Linked DNA regions of Homo sapiens: all the other regions are linked to region 1. Evidence: fine-mapped expression QTL. A gene starts in region 1. Each other region holds a variant in brackets. All regions are shown on one strand. Distances are between the middles of the regions.

The links. PIP is the estimated chance that this variant, and not a neighbour inherited with it, causes the effect. A credible set is the group of variants that fine-mapping cannot tell apart.
Region 2: its variant is the best candidate, but not a certain one, in a credible set for the expression of NDUFA10 in whole blood (INTERVAL, PIP 0.71).
Region 3: its variant is the best candidate, but not a certain one, in a credible set for the expression of NDUFA10 in whole blood (INTERVAL, PIP 0.87).

The regions. Positions count from the first base shown.
Region 1 is chr2:240,023,457-240,027,656 of GRCh38, reverse strand. It overlaps NDUFA10 (NADH:ubiquinone oxidoreductase subunit A10), which reads left to right and starts at 2,315. Exons shown (of 10, transcript NM_004544.4): 1 at 2,315-2,430. The coding sequence starts at 2,356. RefSeq lists an enhancer at 1,491-2,320 and a silencer at 2,129-2,388.
Region 2 is chr2:239,958,664-239,962,863 of GRCh38, reverse strand. NDUFA10 (NADH:ubiquinone oxidoreductase subunit A10) reads left to right here. Exons shown (of 10, transcript NM_004544.4): 10 at 1,678-4,200. The coding sequence ends at 1,746. Among named protein-coding and RNA genes, the nearest start is that of MIR4786, 18 kb to the right of the region's middle. The variant C/T (reference allele first, on the strand shown) is at 2,184.
Region 3 is chr2:239,971,292-239,975,491 of GRCh38, reverse strand. The region is part of intron 9 of NDUFA10 (NADH:ubiquinone oxidoreductase subunit A10); the gene reads left to right. Among named protein-coding and RNA genes, the nearest start is that of MIR4786, 30 kb to the right of the region's middle. The variant G/A (reference allele first, on the strand shown) is at 2,197.

The sequences.
Region 1 (4,200 bases):
TTCATTTCATATAGTGTTGGATTCAATTTGCTAACATTTCGTTAAGGATTTTTGTGTCTAAGTTCACGAGAGATATTGGTCTATTGGGGTCTGAAGTTATTTTCATGCTGTCTAATATAGTGTGGACGTCAAAGCGACCTCCTAGAGAACATTCCTAGCTCTCAGAACGTTCTAGCTGGGGAGGGAAAACGGAAAAAGGGGGGCGAGAAGCGGAGGGACGGGGAAGTATATAGTAATACTTCCCTTGAACCAGTAAAACTGTAATGCCCAACCTGGTTTTTACTAACTGTTTTCAGACTCTCCCTTTTCCTTTAATCACCTAGCCCTGTTTCCACCTGAATTGACTCTCCCTTAGCTAAGAGAGCCAGACAGACTCCATCTTGGCTCTTTCACTGGCAGCCCCTTTCTCAAGGACTTAACTTGTGCAGGCTGACTCCCACCACATCCAAGAATGCAATTAACTGGTAAGATACTGTGGCAAGCTACATCCGCAGTTCCCAGGAATTTGTCCGATTGATAACGCCCAAAGCCCCGGGTCTATCATCTTGTAATAGTCTTAAAGCCCCTGCACCTTGAACTGTTTACTTTCCTGTAACCATTTACCCTTTTAACTTTTTGACTACTTTACTTCTGTAAAATTGTTTTAACTAGACCCCCCCCCCTTCCTAAACCAAGGTATAAAAGTTAATCAAGCCCCTTCCTCGGGGCTGAGAGAATTTTGAGCGTTAGCCGTCTCTCGGTCGCCAGCTAATAAAGGACTCTTAATTCGTCTCAAAGGTGGTGTTTTTCTAACTCGCTCAGGTACAACAAAACATCCACGCAAACAGGTTGTGAGAAGTTACGTCTGCGTGCTGTGATACCTAGAGGAACCACTACGAAAACTATACATAATGATATTTCCCAAGACATTATCAGTAAATCAAGATGGAATTCTAAAAAAATGTACTGTATCCATTGGAAGGCACAAAAAAAAAAAAAAAAAAAAAATGCAAAGGAAACAAGGCAAAAAACAGCAGACATGAACCCTAAAGCTTGTTAAATGGATTTCAGGTGCCCTCCAGGATCTAAAAACCAGACCCTCCTGCGTTGGGGACCGGGAATCCGTATTTTTGACAAAAAGCAATTCTTCAATTATAGAAACATCCATAGAACCGGCCGTAGTTTACACAGCTGCATTCCCACTGTTTTACAATCGCATGATCATTTCTGAAAAGTTGAAAACAAAGTTAAAGAATATTTAAGGGGTTAAGAACAAAAAGCCTGGGGAACACAAAAGATTATAAAAACCCTTCCCAACAGCAGGCATACTTGGAAGGAAACCTCACATGCAAGGCTCCTTCGTGGAGCCCAGAGCCCAGGTCCTGACGGGAGCACATTTTAAGAGATGGACTTGCCGGCGCGGTGGCTCACGCCTGTAATCCTAGCACTTTGGGAGGCCGAGGCGGGTGGATCACGAGGTCAGGAGATCGAGACCATCCTGGCTAACATGGTGAAACCCCGTCTCTACTAAAAATACAAAAAATTAGCCGGGTGTGGCGGCGGGCGCCTGTAGTCCCAGCTACTCGGGAGGCTGAGGCAGGAGAATGGCGTGAACCAGGGAGGCGGAGCTTGCAGTGAGCGCGATGGCGCCACCGCACTCCAGCCTGGGCGACAGAGCGGGACTCTGCCTCAAAAAAAAAAAAAAAAAAAAAAAAAAAAAAAAAAAAAAAAAGAGATGGACTTGGAGCGTGTGCTTTTGTTTTCTATGCTATTCAATGTGTTCACAGCAGGTCCCCTGGATGAGACCACTTAGCCTTCAGCTCCGGAGGCGACCCAGGCCGGCCTTGCCAGGTCCCTCTCCCTGACAGGCGCCCCGCGACAGGGGTCCCACCCCGTCCCTCCGCTCCTCGCCCCCTCTTTTTCCACTTTCCCTCCCCAGCGAGAACGTTCTGAGAGCTAGGAATGTTCTCTAGGAGGTCGCTTTGACGTCCACACCGCGCCTGGGGGATTCTGCGGGGAGCACAGGACCCTGGGACGAGACGCAGAAGTCGCTCCACGCCCTGGGCGGCCTCAGCTCCCGCGACACCGCAGCAACTCAGAACCCAGGCAGGGGCCGGGCAGCCAGCATGCTGCCCCCACGTTCACCTCCAACTCCCACCTCTCGGCCCTCGCCCCAACCCGCAGGACCCTGGCAGCGCACTGGCTGTCTCCGCGGAAGCCCCCGAGGGCCTCGGCGCGGCCCCGCCCCCTGGAAGGTTCCCGACAGGCGCCGCGGGCACCCCGGCCGTGACGTCACGGCAGCGCGCCGGCCGCGAGAGAGGGCCCCGTCGCGACCGCGTCCCCTTGGGTCCTTGATCCTGAGCTGACCGGGTAGCCATGGCCTTGCGGCTCCTGAAGCTGGCAGCGACGTCCGCGTCCGCCCGGGTCGTGGCGGCGGGCGCCCAGCGCGTGGTGAGCGGGCGGCGGGGTGGCAGGGTGGCGGGGTGGCAGGGTGGCGGGGTGGCGGGGTGGGGAGCAGTTCCACATCTCCCCCGGCCTCTGGCGGCGGCTCCCAGGTCGCTCTCCGGGTGGGTTTGGGGGACCCCTCCTGCCTCCGGAATTGTTTGGTCTTTGGTCGTGGACAGACCTCAGGGGGCCACGAGCTTCTCCAGGCCATTTTATCTCAGCTTTAAGCAAAACGCTGGAGCGCGGAGGTGATCAGGGCCCCGAGGCTGCCCTGATGCGGGAGGCCCGTGTGCAGGTGGCAGGCCGGGGGCACACGCGCTTGTCATTAGATAATTCACGTAGCAGCCCTGTCAAGAGCCGTTTAAAGGTCGGGCCCTGCTGGGTGCTTGGGTGATGCCATGTTGAGCAGACACGGAGTTCAGTGCTTGTGTCCGCTTCCTTTTGCCTTTACTCTGACTGACTACTCTCATTTCTTAGCATTTTGCCCCCACCTTCTTCAGTGAAATCGTTTCATACATTTGTAACACAGTTGGATTGCTTTGTCACATTCTGCCTTACATCTTGGGATCCTTCTACCTAATGCGTTTTTTAAAATGTGCATACATTGAGCGCATTCTTTGTGCTATAAGGTTCTATGGATTTTTTCTTTGTGCTATAAGGTTCTATAGGTTTTGACACGTGTGTAATAGCATGTCTCCACCATTATAGGTTCGTACAGAGTAGCTTCACTGCCTTAAAAAATTCCCCTCTGCTTTACCTATTAAACCCTTCTTTTTCTCCAACCCCTGACAACCACAGATCTCATTAACATTTCCATAGTTGCCTTTTCTGGAATGTCATATAATTAGAATCATACAATATATTGCCTTTTCAGACGCCTTGAATACTTGGAAATATCTATGTAAGATTCACTTATGTCTTCGTGGCTTGGTAACTCATTTCTTTTTAATCACTGAGTAATATCTCATTGCATGGATGTACTTCAATTCATTCAGCAATTGAAGGGCATCTTGGTTGCTTCAAGTTTTTGGCAATTATGAATAAAGCTGCTGTAATCGTGTACATGCAGATTTCTTTTTGGAAATACATTTTTATATCATTTGGGTAATACCTGGAAGAGCGATTACTCATGTAGTAAGACTAGTTTTCTAAGAAGCTGCCAAGCCATCTTCCAGAGTGACTGTGCCATTTGACTCCCACCAGAAGTGAAGGCTCTCCTTGTTGCTCTGCGTGCTCGCCAGCATGCGGGGCTGTCGGTTACTTTGGATTGCTATCCATTCTGATAGCTGCGTAGTGGTATCTTGTTTCAACTTTGGAATATCTCATGATATACAGTGTTCATCTTTTCATATACTTATTTGCTATCTGCGTTAATTTCATTTGCGAGAGGTGTTTACATCTTTTGCCCATTTTTAAATTGGGTTGTCTGCTTTGCCTTGTTTTGTAACTTGTTTCTTCCTTACTCTTCAGTTATCAAATCAAGATCGAAAAATATCTTGATATTTCATATTCTCCTGTTTTATTTAAATTTCACTATAAAGTATTTTAATATTTTTGTGTTTTTCTGAGTACTTAGTATTCCATAATATGGATATGCCTTAATTTTGTTTAACTATTCCTCCGTTGTTGGACATTTAAGGGTTTCTATTTGCATTTTTGGTGTTACATCATACTTCATTGAGCATCCTTATAGGTCAATCTTATGTATATACTCTTTGAATGGATTCCTAATGCTGTAGACCCAGCGTCCTCTAGGTTTCATTACCATTAGCAGTT
Region 2 (4,200 bases), 65 kb after region 1:
ATTTTAAAGTATATGGCAGCTCCCACCCCCTACCCGCCTCATGCTCTTGCTCTTGCTCCTACTCCCACTATGTGGCGTACCTGCCCCTGCTTTGCTTTCCACTATGATTGGAAGCTTCCTGAGGCCTTCCCAGAAGCAGATGCTGGCACCATGCTTCCCACACAGCCTGCAGAACCATGAGCCAATTAGACCTCTTTTCTCTCTGCATTTCTCAGCCCCGGGTATGTCTTTATAGCAGTGCAAGAATGAACTAACAGAGCACCGGCCCCTCCACTTCCAGGTCCCACTTCACAGCTGTGCACCTAGGAGAGGAGAGGCTTTCTGGGGAGGAGGAAGGGTGGCTCCTGGGCCTTGAAGATCCTAGAGCTTTGCCTGTCCTGTGTGTGAGATGGCTGGTCTTGGGGCGACCTGTCTGCTGCTTCATAGGATGCATTGTGTGTTCGTCTGTCACTGCGTGGCCACTGTGGCAGAGGCCAGGCAAGGCACATTTCAGTGATTTGTGATCCAGGCAGCCATGGCTGTGTGGATGGCTGTGAATGCCTGCTGCTGATTAGGATAAAGGAAAAGCTGATTCTTTTAAAAATGGTTTTAGTACCTGTTCTTAAGGGCAGAATTTGGAAGGGGTGTGTGTGTGTGTGTGTGTGTGTGTGTGTACACAAATTGACTGTGTGCCCATGCTGATTTGAAAATATGAAAAAACTCATCATTTTCCCACCTGCCATCGCTGGGCGACACACACCGTGCTGAGCGCTTTCTCCTGGCTCCGCAACGAGGTGGTCCTGCGGAGCAACACTCCTCTTTCCGTCTCAGCCAGCCCTGTGCTGGCCGCCTACCCTCATGAACAGGCGTCTTTGTGCTGGCAGGGGCTCTTGTTGCCCCCCAGATCTCCCTGTGCCCTGTGAGGTTGGCCTCTGTGGACCGCCACCTGAGCCCCTGATCTCTCCCAGATGGTGGGAGAAGTGGGGCCTGTAACATCCTTTCTGCAGCTCCATCACTGCCAAGCTCAGCCCCCCACTGGCCTCTCTGGCAGCATCCGCTCCTCCTGGGCTCTGTCGTCCTGTCGCTCCTGGATGTTCAGTGGCTCCCGCTAGGGTCAGTCCTGCAGTGCTTCCCCCTCCTTTGCTGGTTTTCCTGAACCCTGCCCATGTCTACTTAAAAGGCCTGGATGAAACTCACTTTCCTACTCCGCCAAGGGCCCCTTACAGCCAGCGGCCCGGCCTCTGCAGGCCCTCTTCAGAGGGAATTTCACGCGGGGCTTTTTCAGAGAGAACTCGGTGTTTCAGTTGGTGAACTGTGGTTCCTGGGTCCCAGCCCCACCCCTGTGTCTGCGTGGCTGTCCCTGCTCAGGGCCTCCCCTAAGTGCCACCCATTGCTCTCTGTCCCCCTCCTGTGGCTCTTGTCACCCTCCTGACATTAATGAGAACACTCAGTAGTTCGTTTCCATTTGTGGCTCCCAGCCCTAGGACAGAAGCTTCTGGCAGGCAGGGCTGGGTTGTGGTTTGTGTACCTGTGGCATCCTTGCACTCACAGGAGACACCTGCCACAGATCATGTGCTCACCAGCATTGCTGAAGGAACTCATGAAGTACAGGCATCTGCCGGGTAGACATTGAACTATGAGCTGGGGAAACATTCATTCACGTTAAACAGAATGCACCAATGCCTTTTTCCCCCACAGCTGCCGGGCCGCAAGTACAGCCCTGGGTACAACACCGAGGTGGGAGACAAGTGGATCTGGCTGAAGTGAACGGGCCGCCTTCTGCTCCAGCTGCATCACAGTGATGGCCAAGCTGCATCAGCCGCACTCTCCTGGACGCCATATAGCTTTAAGATCGGGGGAGGGTAAATAATGCAAAAATTGCACAGTGGAAGAAGGGGTCTCACAAAAAGCAATCCATCCTGTAGTATAGGTAATGGAGTTGGGGGAAGCAGCTTCCATTCTGGATGTTTGGAACCCTTTAGCTTTGTTTTGGAATGGCCCACCATTCTCACTGGAAAACAGTGGTCTGCTGTGAAAGGCCAGCTCTCGGCAGCCCCTGTGGTTTCAGCGCTGCCGCTCTGTGTCATTCAGGTTGTGCACATTGTTTTTCTTCTGACTTCCAGAAATAAAAGTGTTTCCATGGGAATTTCCCCATCGTACGTCTATGTGCGTGCGGGCACGTCGAAACTGCACACGTGCACACA[C/T]GCTGCTCTGGGCCCTGTTTGGTGTGGTGTGGTTTAATTGAGGCTTACATTATGCTGAAGAGTTTTTCTAAAGGCCTACTGTATTTATTTTAGTAATGTGCTACATTAGAGTAGAAAAAATAAGAACGTGAAGAAGAAATAGCAAAAGGAGAAAATTACCACAGATTTACAGAACAATATGTTTTAAGAGAGACGTTGAGAAAGATTCACGTGGCCGTCCTCAGCGTCTCAAACTCCTTTGAAGGGAGATTTGAGCTTAGGCTGTTGATGACATAAGATGCAAAAGCAAAATAATATACTCTCTTTATTACCCAGAAAATCAAGTTGCCAGTCAAAACTGAGAAATGAGAAAGAAAATCAGATTTCTTTATTCATCTCTGTTGAAGCCTAGAAAACCAAAACAAGCTGGTTGTGGTTCAGCATCATGGTTTAGGAATCAAGCTGTCAGTTGTGAGTCCTACTGAACTGTGGGTTTTCCACTGTAAAGCTCCACTGTGTCCATTAGGAATCAGGCTGCCAGTTGTGAGTCCTACTGAACTGTGGGTTTTCCACTGTAAAGCTCCACTGTGTCCAATATGGTAGCTCCTAGCCACATGTGGGTATTGAAATTTAAATGAGCTAAAATGTAATAGAGTTTAAAATTGGGTTCCTTGGTTGCACTGGCCATAGTTCAGGCACTCCACAGCCGCCTGTGGGCAGTAGTTCCAGTGCTGGTGCAGAGGACGATGCTCTGCTCCCCGCGGAAGCTCTACCAGGCCTCGCTGCTGCGGAGCATGCGAAGAAGATGCACACTCCTTCCCTCCTTGCGTCCGCCTGCCTTTTTCCCTCTCCCCTTCCTTCCCTCCTTCTTTCCTCCTCCTTCCCTCCCTTCCTTTCTTCCTTCCATCTGTCCTTGTTTTCCTCCCTTCCCTTCCTCCCTGCCTCTTTCCTTCCCTCCTTCTCTTCCTTCCTTCCGTCTGTCCTTGTTTTCCTCCCTGCCTCTTTCCTTCCCTCCTTCTCTTCCTTCCTTCCTTCCGTCTGTCCTTGTTTTCCTCCCTTCCCTTCCTCCCTGCCTCCTTCCTTGTTTTAAGAATTTGAAAATAAAGTTTCCCAGGAGTTTTGAATTGGAGTCGAGATTTAAGTGGCTGAAGTTTTGCATTTCACTAGGAAACCAACAGCTTTAATCATGAAATGAAAGCACAGCTGGGCATTGGGCCAGTCACAGAGTGTCTTTTGCTCTGAGCACTTCACAAACCCATTGTGGAGGGGAGGAAAGAAAAAGAAAGCCATCTTTAATTATCTTAGCTGTTCCTAATGTCTTTGGCTGCAAAGAGCTAGCTGTTTCCTTCAACCTTGGTGGTTGCACGGGTAGTGTCCTCAGCAGTGAGAGGGCAGGTCTGCCCTGTGGTCAGGATTGCCCTTGTGAGGGGCAGAGCTCTCCAACCATGCAGGGCTCCGTGTCGGCATGGTGTGGACTCGGGTGCTCTGATCATCCCCTGTGTTTGCGTCTGACCCTGTGTGGTTGCATTCCCTTGATGGAGTGGGAAGTATGTAATTTGTAGTGCTGAGGACATTCGTCTGTTTGATTTTCTGGTGTTTTCAATGACATGCATGTTCAGCAGAGAAAGATGAATAAACACTGTCCAATTCTTCTCTCCACATAGAAGCCTCAAGAAGAGGTGAGGAGATGCCCCGATTTCCTTATTTCAGAGCAGTACATGCGTTCGTCTCACGAAAGCTCTTACAACTAAAACAACAGCACCAACAAACCAGGATCAAAATAATCGTGCATTTTCCAGGATTCCATGTTGGACTTCTCAGTGCTTTGGAGATCAGGAAATAATCATGCTGTTGCAGCAGTATGGTTTTGTGTCTGGATTTTATTCATACAGGCATGTGTTTACAGGCATGAGAATTCTGTATTGAAAAGAAAGTCCTTGTTTTTTTCTAACGTATCTTTCTGTTCCATCAACTGTTAAAACCAAATTGTTAAGAACATTGAGCTTCTTAGGAGAGATTACATGCAGCTACTTAGGAC
Region 3 (4,200 bases), 52 kb after region 1:
GACTCACATTTGGGCAAGTGTGGCCGGGCGGCCATGCTGCTTCCCATTTCCCTGCTTCTTGCAGGGCCCCTGGGGTGAGCACCATGCACAGACTAAGGTGTGGGGGTTGTATTAGGCTGTTCTCGCATTGCTATAAATAAATGTCTGAGACTGGATAATTTATTTAAGAGGGTTTTATTGGCTCACGGTTCTGCAGGCTGTACAGGAAGCATAGCAACTTCTGCTTCTGGGGAGGCCTCAGGAAACTTACAATCATGGTAGACGGTAAAGGGGAAGCAGGTACATCCTAATAAGGCAGGAGCAAGAGAATGGGGCAGCAGAGTGTCACATATTTTTAAATGACCAGATCTTTGGTGGCAGAGTGTCACATATTTTTAAATGACCAGATCTTTGGTGGCGGAGTGTCACATATTTTTAAATGACCAGATCTTTGGTGGCGGAGTGTCTGTCACATATTTTTAAATGACCAGCTCTTTGGTGGCGGAGGAGTGTCACATGTTTTTAAATGACCAGCTCTTTGGTGGCGGAGGAGTGTCACATGTTTTTAAATGACCAGCTCTTTGGTGGCGGAGTGTCACATATTTTTAAATGACCAGCTCTTTGGTGGTAGAGTGTCACATAGTTTTAAATGACCAGCTCTTTGGTGGCAGAGTGTCACATATTTTTAAATGACCAGATCTTTGGTGGCAGAGTGTCACATATTTTTAAATGACCAGATCTTTGGTGGCAGAGTGTCACATATTTTTAAATGACCAGCTCTTTGGTGGCGGAGTGTCACGTATTTTTAAATGACCAGATCTTTGGTGGTAGAGTGTCACATATTTTTAAATGACCAGGTCTTGTGTGAACTCAGAGTAAGAGCCTACTCATCACCAAGGAGATGGCCCAAGCCATTCATGAGGGATCAGCCCGCATGATCCAAACACTTCCCACCAGGCCCCACCTCTGACACTGTGAGTTACATCTCAGCATGAGATTTGGAGGGGACATCCACACTCTCATTTGATGAACATGCTGGTGACATGGGTACACAGACGAGTAAAGAAAGACCTTTTCACAGCAGAGTGGATCTTAGATTTTCATATGAATAGAAGGGTTTATGATTTTTGGTTTTGTTGATCCTGTGACCTTGGAGTGTTTGTCTTGTCACTTGTCTGGCTAGTGTCCTGATGGCTCTCAGGCACCTGTCCACACTCTAGGCGACACCCAGCGCTAGGGCACTGATGCCTCAGGAATCCAAGTTTTCATCTAAAACAGCGTTTTCATTGGGTGCAGTGGCTCACGCCTGTAATCCCAGCACTTTGGGAGGTTGAGGCGGGCGGATGACTTGAGGTCAGGAGTTGGAGATCAGCCTGGCCAACATGGAGAAACCCTGTCTCTTCCTAAAAAACACAAGAATTAGCCAGGCGTGGTGGCGAGCACCTGTAATCCCACCTACTCGGGAGGCTGAGGCATGAGAATCACTTGAATCCAGGAGGCGGGGGTTGCAGTGGGCCAGAATTGCCACTGTGTTCTAGCCTGGGCAACAGAGTGAGACTCCATCTCAAAAAAACTAAAATTAAATAAAAATAAATAAGTAAAGCAGCATTTTCAGTGGGGCATGTGTACCTGGGGTCTGAGCAATATATATGAACATGTTTTTCCTTAGCGACCCTCCTCATTTTGTGCCCGGAATTGACCCTGTGTAAGTTCATGAAAATACTGAATGTGTGCAGGACAGGCTGCTGATTTTTTAAAGTCACGTTTTAAACATTGTATCAGGTCACTTTTTATTTCTGTACAGCCCTTCTTTGGATTAGACAAACTGTGATTTGGTTTCTATTTTACCAGTTCAGTCTCTTCAATGGAAGGAAGCCAGATGCTGTTAAGATACTGTGCTCCCTCCTTGAAGCTGATCGTTCCCTCCTTGAAGCTGATCGTTCCCTCCTTGAAGCTGATCGTGTCCAAGATAGTTGCTAGGACAACAGAATCTTCTGTTTTCTCGCCTGCTATTTTTGTTTCTTTTACTATCTCAAGTTGTTTTCATTTTCAGTATTGAGTTCTCCCTTACCATTTTTTAAAACAGAGATGTTTTTATTAACTTTAATATGTTAATACTGTATGTTCTTGCCTTTATGAAATTCACCTTACAGAAAGGCACTAGGATCAGTTTACCTAAACATGCGGGAGACGGAAGGCCAGACGTGACTGCTTTAG[G/A]TTCCTCATGACATTCAGACCTTACTTGGAACTCAGTTTGGTATCTAGTTGTGTTAAAATACAAATTTTCAGTTTATAAGTTACTTAATTAAGTTTGAAAGTAAATGCGTAATGCCTTCAGTGTTCTCTCCACTTTGTGCCCTGCCACCTGCACTGTGGAAATTAATCATAGAAACTCGGCGTTAATCTGTATGCCCGAGTTATTTACATCTCTGTGTATGGAAAATTATCAGCATGTGTCCCTCGAAGAAGATGATGAGCATAAAAGGTGATCTTTACCAGGTCCATTGGTTTGTATGTGATTGCTGTGGTATGTGGTATCTGCCTGTCTACTGATGGAAAGTGGTAAGATACTGTCTTACATGCAATCTGGAAAATCAAGTGCCCTGACTTTACAGTGTGTTACATATGATTGTATTTACTTTAGAATTTTTAGAAAGCATACCATTTTCAGGTTTAAAACAAGCACTTAGGTTAGGAGCTTTTCTATTATTCACAGCTAATAAGAGTTAAGGAGGATTAAGACATTTGAACTATTGTTAATACTCATTGCAACAAATATGACAGCTAAATAATGATATATTTGTAGGAAGCTATAGTTTTATGTGTTAAAAAATAGAACACACATTTTCAAAATAAAAATATGGTTTTTGAAAGTTGACTGTTAAAAGATTTTTTGAAAATTTATGCCAATTTTGTTACATTCGATTTGTGTTCTACAGTAATGGAAATTAAGGGAAATTGTGTATCAGAGAAGTGTCTTTAATATCTATAGTGCTCTTCTTTAAAATTAATGAAAAACTCCAAGCAGAATTGATTAGCATTTATATGTTATAATGGAAAATAGGAGTTGGAAACTGGAATTTCCAAATCACCCCAGAACTTTGCAGTATTTTGAAGCTCCTTAGTGCATCTAGAGAGAGGGGAGCCAGTCATGCTTGGCATAACCCATTGCTTGCCCCAGCAGAGTGAAGCCCACCCGGTACACAGGCCCTCACTCAATCGTTTTTTTGTTTAATTTATATATTTACAGTAATACAATAAAGGGTTTGTTGCTGGAATATACACATATTTATTTATATGTATAATATTTATCAATATATTTACAAATATATGTATACATGTACACACACACACACACACACACACACACACACATCCTTCATGAAAACTCTTTCAGCTGGGAAACTGAGCATCCTTGAATGTCCCTGAGGTGACTACTAGGATATAAACATCCCCCAAGAGAAGTGCTTTGAGTTACATACGAAAGGACCTGCAGAAAGATTGGAGTCACCTTTATCTGGGTAGAGTGGATTGTGGACCATAACCTAACAGACACCCAAGAAATCTCATAGCTGAGACCTTGAGCAACATACCTTTACTATATATATGCTGATTGACAGATAAATGGAAAATTGGAGGGAATGAGGGGAATTCAGTAAAACCTCGTATAAGTAGTATGTGATTGAGGAAAGAGCTTATTGTGTTATTTTTAAGAGTTAGCACACTAAAAGTTACAATTTAATTCAACGAATATTTACATGCTGTAGTGGGAAAAAGATCCTGGACTTGATCATTAAAAGATCGGGGCTCCACTTTCAGCCTGCCACCAGCTAGCCACGTGACCGTAGGCAAGTCAAGTCTCTGAACACCCTGTCTCTTTTAAAACAGAGACTGTGCCTTCCTTTACCTCATGCTGTCAGGGTCACAGGAAATAACACTAGTAAAAAGGTTTCTACTTAGAGGCTGCCCACTAATATCAGTAAGTGTATCAATGATTGCATTGGACATAACTTTGTGATGAGTACCAAAGAAAAGTCAAAGGATGAAGGGAGCTCTGAGAAGGAAGGGGCATTATTTCATGGCAGGATTCGAGGAGGCAGAGGTGGCTCAGGACAGCACTTCAAAAAGAGTGAGTGGCATAGGTGTTCAGTAGAGAAAAGCCATGGCCTTGGCCAGGAATAGCAAGTCAGCTGCCACACTCAAGGAAGACCTACTTGGAGA